Homo sapiens: one gene and its partner. The protein of the gene in region 1 purifies or fractionates together with the protein of each later gene. This does not show direct contact. Each region holds a gene or a part of one and is shown on either strand. Other genes may lie near its edges.

What was found. The genes of interacting proteins can lie anywhere in the genome.
Region 2: the proteins of GFPT1 (region 1) and ASNS fractionate together in Homo sapiens (co-fractionation; one large-scale study listed by BioGRID). This does not show direct contact.

The regions. Positions count from the first base shown.
Region 1 is NC_000002.12:69,335,120-69,338,776, reverse strand, and holds part of GFPT1 (glutamine--fructose-6-phosphate aminotransferase [isomerizing] 1), read left to right. Parts: intron 1-211; coding exon 212-332; intron 333-721; coding exon 722-879; intron 880-3,657.
Region 2 is NC_000007.14:97,865,862-97,869,518, reverse strand, and holds part of ASNS (asparagine synthetase [glutamine-hydrolyzing]), read left to right. Parts: intron 1-339; 5' UTR 340-362; coding exon 363-611; intron 612-3,657.

The sequences.
Region 1 (3,657 bases):
AAGAGACTGATAGTAAAATGTTAGCCATGCTTATCTCAAGTGGTAGGATTTTGATTTTTTTTTTTTAAATATTTTAATCTGGGTTGTTTTTATTTTCTAACGTGTCATTTTTGTAATCAGAAAAAGCAAAAACTATACATTGAATCCAAAGAAGTCCGATGAAAGAGTATTTGAAGGAAAGTTCTGTGACCAAGTCATATTTTCTCTGCAGACACGTCAAGTTCTTGAGGAGCTGACTGAGTTGCCTGTGATGGTGGAACTAGCAAGTGACTTCCTGGACAGAAACACACCAGTCTTTCGAGATGATGTTTGCTTTTTCCTTAGTCAATCAGGTGTGTTAATTTTAAAGACTTAAAAGGAAGGAAAGTTATTCTTTCTAATAATTCTAGCATATCTTGGCAAAAGCTGATATTTAAAGATAAACTGGCATTGCAGATGACTTGACGAATACAGATTTATTTTAATGTTACATAATTCTTTATGAATTAGTAAAAATGAACACCTTTTGTGTTCAAAGAGCTGGATTTTCAATGACAGAGAAGGAAGAGAGATCCTGACAAGCCATATTACTTAAAGTTTTATAAATTTATTAAGTGGATGTTTTGTATTTTATTTAAAACAAGTAATATTGTTGAAAGTGTGGTCAATTTGTTTTTGCTCCTAAGAAACAGCATATGTTAAAACTGTTCTGTGTGTTATGGTTGGCCTACTTTTTACACAGGTGAGACAGCAGATACTTTGATGGGTCTTCGTTACTGTAAGGAGAGAGGAGCTTTAACTGTGGGGATCACAAACACAGTTGGCAGTTCCATATCACGGGAGACAGATTGTGGAGTTCATATTAATGCTGGTCCTGAGATTGGTGTGGCCAGTACAAAGGTAAATTCTTGACTCATTTCTCTGATGATTATTTAATCATAGTGTCAGTGAAGCAGACTAGTCTGTAGACTAGTCTGTATCTTATTTTTGTTAGCAGTTATAGAACTCACACATTTTATTTTTGTTAGCAGTTATAGAACTCACACATTTTACTAATCATTGTAATTATTGTAGGACTTTAGGGTCAGATAGATAAAAGACTTGTCATTCTCTCCCTCTTCCTGATAGAGTTTAAAAGGGACTTATGTATATAATGTAAGTCCATTTTGAAAAGGTCTCTGCTGGCTATCCTTGTCTATCGCTTACTGCCCTCCTGCTAGGCACAGTAGGATACATAACAAGTATATAACATCCCCTTCTTTTATGAAGTATAGTCTGGAATTTGAAAAGTAACAAATTAGAAACATCCACTTTAACCATTTTTGGAATTTTTATTTACCTATTTATGGTTTCTAATAAATAATGTAAAAATATACATACTACCTCTGAAAGTTTGTAAGGAGGAATACACCTTTGGTATAAAATTTGGCAACTGCCAGGCATGGTGGCTCACGCCTGTAATCCCAGCACTTTGGGAGGCTGAGGCGGGCGGATCATTTGAGCTCAGGAGTTCAAGACCAGCCTGGCCAACATGGTGAATCCCGTCTCTACTAAAAATACAAAAATTAGCCAGGTGTGGTAGCACGTGCCTGTAATCCCAGCATACCCGGGAGGCTGAGGCAAGAGAATCACTTGAACCTGGGAGGTGGAGGTTGCAGTGAAGCGAGATTGTGCCACTGCACTCCAGTCTGGGTGACAGAGCAAGAGTCCATCTAAAAAAAAAAAAAAAAAAAAAAATTTAAAATTTGGCAATTAAAAAAAATTTTTTAATGAGTATTGTATGACAATATCTTTCTCTTTAGATATTGCTCTGGGGAGGTTTAAAGGTACTGTCTTGTGTTTTGAAGGCCTGGTAAGACTACTTTGCTCTTTGGAATTGGAATATGCATAAATTTAGGTGGCTAATAAAAATAGGAAATCTTAGAAAGTTGTATAAATACAAGAGATGTTATCCCTCCACAAGTGTTTTTTTGGGGTTTTAGGTTTGTTTGGTTGTTATTTAGAGACAGGGTCTTGTTTTGTCACCCAGGCTGGGGCTGGAGTGCAGTGACAGGAATCATAGCTCCCTGCAGCCTCAGACTCATGGGCTCAAGTGATCTCTGCCTCAGCTTCCTGAGTGGCTGGGACTGCAGATGCACCAGGCTAGTTTTTTTTTTTTTTTTAAGATGGGGTCTCACTATGTTGTCCAATGTGTTACTTTTTATGATTTCACATTTTTGTTTTCTCAATATTTTTCTACTTAAGTTTGATATTTCTTGCTGATTATCTAATAAGATGTTGGGATATTGGTGGATTTGAGTTTAATTAAAGGATTGTGAAAGACAATGTTAATGTGTACATAACTGCATTTGAATTCTTTTCCCTCAAAGATTCTCATAGAGAATTTTTTGTAGAAAGTTTGTGATTCTTATATAAAAATTCTTCTTTTCTTTTTCTTTTTCTTTTTTTTTTTTTTTTTGGAGACAGACTCTCACTCTGTTGGCCAGGCTGGAGTGCAGTGGCGTGATCTCAGCTCACTGCAACCCCCGCCTCCTGGGTTCAAGCGATTCTCCTGCCTCAGCCTCCCAGGTAGCTGGGATTACAGGCACCTGCCACCACGCCTGGCTAATTTTTGTATTTTTGATAGCAATGGGGTTTCACCATGTTGGCCAGGCTTGTCTTGAACTCCTGACCTCAAGTGATCTGCCTGCCTCAACCTCCCAAAGTGCTGGAATTACAGGCATGAGCCACACTGTACCTGGCCCCCCACCTTTTTTTTTTTTTTTGGAGACAGGGTCTCTCCTCTTTATCATCCAGAGTACATAGAGTGCAGTGGTGCTCATGGCTTACTGCAGCCTGGACCTTCCCAGGCTCAGGTGATCCTCCCACCTTAGCCTCCTGAGTAGCTGGGACTACAGGTACAGGCCACTACCCATGCCTGGCTAATTTTTGTATTTTTTTGTAGAGACGGAGTTTTACCATGTTGCCTAGGCCAGTCTCGAACTCTTGGGCTCAAACGATCTGCCTGCTTTGGCCTCCCAAAGTGCTGGGGTTACAGGCATAAAAACTCTTGAGTGAGATTTTTATTTCTTGGGTATTTCGATATTGCTAACACTATAATTTACAGAGTGCTGAAACTTGAATTTTCTCCATATGGTAATTAAAACGTGTTACATGTTTGTGCTTGGGTTTCCATCCTGTGGCTGAATAAATGACCAGCCACCTTTAGTAGCACTTAAGGATTTGATTGGGGGATTGGAATCCCAGAGGCTCTTTATTTATAACAGATTGTGAAACAAGGGCTACAACGTGGTGTATGTGGGATATGGGATTGTTTGGATGGATGCCATTGACTTAATCTTTTCATAAAATGTTTCTGGAATTGTGAGCTGCCAAGGGAAATATATATTTTACATTTCTCATTCCTTTGTTTATGAGAACTTTAATTTGCCTCAACATTTTATGATGATGATTTTCAAATATACAGCAGAGTTTTAAAAATTTTACATACAGGCTGGGTGCAGTGGCTCACAACTGTTATCCTGGCACTTTGGGAGGCTGAATTGGGAGGATCACTTGAGGCTAAGAGTTCAAGACCAGCCGAGGCATCAGAGTGAGACCTTATCTCTATAAAAAATACAAAAATTAGCGGGGCATGGTGGTGCGTGCGTGTAGTCCCAGCTACTCAGGAGGCTGAGG
Region 2 (3,657 bases), on another chromosome or scaffold:
TTGGAAGCAAACTTAGAATGCAGAGACAGATGTGGCATGGACGCTGTCAGCTCTAGCCAACCACTAAATCCTAAGGTGGGAGAGATGCAGGCTTTGGCTAGGTGCTAAGCTGCTGTAGCCGGTTGAATGTAGAGGTCACTATCTTTTCCGAATACCTGTAAGTAAATTAAATCATTCTCTACTCCCATGTGCCTGCCAACCTAATGGGAAATCGCTATAGAAAAGATGGTTTAAATTTTAGTCTTTGAAGTGGTTTATGCACGTTTCCGGAATCAAGATTTAATGCAGAGTTGGATTGGATATTGAATATTTTTGATTTGTCTGCTTTTCTCTCCATAGAAAGCTTATAGCTTCATTGCACCATGTGTGGCATTTGGGCGCTGTTTGGCAGTGATGATTGCCTTTCTGTTCAGTGTCTGAGTGCTATGAAGATTGCACACAGAGGTCCAGATGCATTCCGTTTTGAGAATGTCAATGGATACACCAACTGCTGCTTTGGATTTCACCGGTTGGCGGTAGTTGACCCGCTGTTTGGAATGCAGCCAATTCGAGTGAAGAAATATCCGTATTTGTGGCTCTGTTACAATGGTGAAATCTACAACCATAAGAAGGTGAGGAGAAAGAAACCAGATGTCTGGATGCGATTAAACTTCAGAGTTTGTTGGTTACGATGATGTTACATATTCTGTATCATGCTTTTTCCTTTGCAAAGCACTCTATGTTCGTTATCTCATTTGCTCTAAGTATGTAAATAGGGAACTGATGAATAAAAAGGTGAGTGAAATGACTTGGTCACAAAAAAAGTGATAAAAATGGGGATTACAGTTCAGTTTCATTGACTCTTAGAATTTTTTCTCCTTCTCCCCAGCTTTTCATTTTGAAAAAATTCCTAACATACAGTAAAGAACAGAACAACAAGCACCTAGATTAAATAGTCATTAATGTTTTGCCATAGTTGCTTGATTTTTCTTTCTACACACACACACACACACACACACATGTTTTTGCTGAATCATTTGAGAGTACAGTGCAGATATTATGACACTCCTAAATATATAAGCATTTATCTCCTAAGAATAAGGACATTCTTCTACATAACATCAATGCCATTATTAAACCTAAGAGTCCATAATACCACCTAATATCCAGTTAATACTTAAATGAAATTTCCCTAAGTGTCCCAAGAATATTTTTATTTATTTATTTATTTTGAGACAGAGTCTCATTCTGTCACCCAGGCTGGAGTGCAGTGGTGCGATCTCGGCTTACTGCAACCTCTGCCTCCCAGGTTCAAGCAATTCTCCTGCCTCAGCCTCCCAAGTAGCTGGGACTACAGGCACCTGCCACCATGCCCAGCTAATTTTTTGTATTTTAGTAAAGACAGGGTTTCACCATGTTGCCCAGGGTGGTCTGGAACTCCTGAGCTCAGGTAATCTGCCCACCTTGACCTCTCAAAGTGCTACCAAGAATATCTTTATAGCTGGTTCTTGTTTGTTTTGAGCCAGATTTCATTCAAGGTTCATGCATTTGGTTGGTATGTTTCTTGGTATTTTTTGAGACTTCTTGATAGATACCTGTCAGGCATTGATAGAGATTTACATCCTAATCACATTTTGGACATTTTTATCTGTGAACAATAGCTTTTGTCATTGTTTGTTGCCTGCTCATAGGAAGACTCTTAATAATAGTCTTCTCATTTAAAAAGTTTTAAAATAGTTATTCAGGAAATTCCTTTTACACATTTCTTTATTCCTTTATTAAGGGTCTACTATGCACCAGACATCATTTTTCTAGGTGATTGGAGATGAAATGGTGAAAAGGAAAGGCAAGAATGGAATTTCCTGCTAGTGGGAGGTAGAAGAAGAGAGTATTAAAAATTTTTTCTAAGTCAAATAATGTCATATACATGAGAACGCTAGGTGGTATTATGGCATTATCAGCTTGGCTTTCCCCTTAAATGAAATAGGAAGTGCCCTGTTTCACTTGAACAGTGTTATTTCTTTTATTAAAAAGTTACAAGAAGTTAAATATTTTGAAAATAATTAATTTCTATTCTAAATTAGCCAAATGTTATATTTGTAAAAGTAGAGAAGTTTGTTCCATTGCTTCTACCAAGCATCTAAGTTTATGTAGTTGGGGCAGCTAGCAGTCTGTCTAATGAGCAGAATGTATACTTTAGGCTTATATAAAGTATTCAGAAATCCCCCCCACACCTCCTTTTTGGTAAAAATAAAGTTTACCACTACAATAAAATACAGCCAGAGGTGTACTGGGAGTAGAAGGAGACTGAATGAAAGAAAGGAGGAATGGGGTAAAGGCTGGGGCAAAGAGCAGGCCCTCTCCCTGCAGGGGAGTATCAGGGCCTGCAGCCAAGTCAAATGACAGCATGACGTCAGGAGGCAAGATTTGAGGGCTTTTATTTAAGGTGCAGCATTGGAGTTTGGTTTTAGGAGAGTAGGAAGTAATACATCCGTTACCCAAAGGACCCTTCTCCTTTTTAAATAAGTTACCTGCAAAGTTTAGGCCAAAGAGGTGGGTAAGGTAGATTTGGGAAGCTGTTGCTTACTAATATCACCGAATGCTTTATGGTCACTAACCCTTCAGGCAGTTCAGCCCAGAAGAGTCAGCAGAAGACTGTTTACAGGCCCCCACCTGCTAGTTACAGATCATCCCTGATAGAGCAGAGAGGGGTGACCAGGTAGTGACTTTGTAGTCACTGGAGGCAAAGCCCATTTTTGGACAGTTCAGTGAGGACTTATAGACAAAAGATTCACAAATTATGGAGTGAGTTGGATGGAGTGTGAAGCATATTTATGGGTCATGCACATACATAATAGGTTTACTTTTTGAAATTTGAAAGCATGTTTTAAGCTTATCTAGGATTTCCACCTGATTTAAACCTCTTCTTTCTCTAATGTCAGCCAAAAACCCGAGTACAAAGAAGAAAGAGGAATACATCAAGGACTTTTCATCCTCATAGTTTGCCATTAATGGCTCATAGTTTGCCGTTGATGGTGGAGAGTGTCAGAATTGGGGAGTAGCCTAATCAAACCTTCTTACTCTGCATGCAGTGGCAGACAGTCCCTTTGCTGTTCTTTTGGGGAATGCAGACTAATAAAGCGCCACCGTCATTTTATCTATCAGTAAGGAGTAGCTTTAATGCTGCTGCAGTGGTGGAAGCACTGGGCATTGTCATCCACCCCTGGGGACCAGCAGCTTTGTTTTGGATCATGTATCTGTTATTGTGATGGAGCCATTTATTTTTCAGGGAATGATGCCAAATGATGTTTGTCCCTTTGCTTTACATTTTTATAGCTAGGACTTTGAAGCTGAACTGGAGGAACTTCTTAGCCAATACTATCTTCTCAAATCAAAAGTTTATAGTTGCAAAAGACACGTTTTTTAGTGTCATGGCAACCAGGCAACCTATTATCTTAACTTAAATTTAGAGGTTGAGCATCCCTAATCTGAAAATCTGAAATTTGAAATGCTCCAAAATCTGAAACTTTTTGAGCACTGACATGACATTACATGTGCATTTTGATGTCACAGTCAAAATGCAGGTGTAAAACACGCAGTTTATTTGGCGTTCCCTAGGGAAAAAAGACCCTCTCAGCCCGCTTCAGCTGCAGTATAACTTTTCTACACATGCCCGGA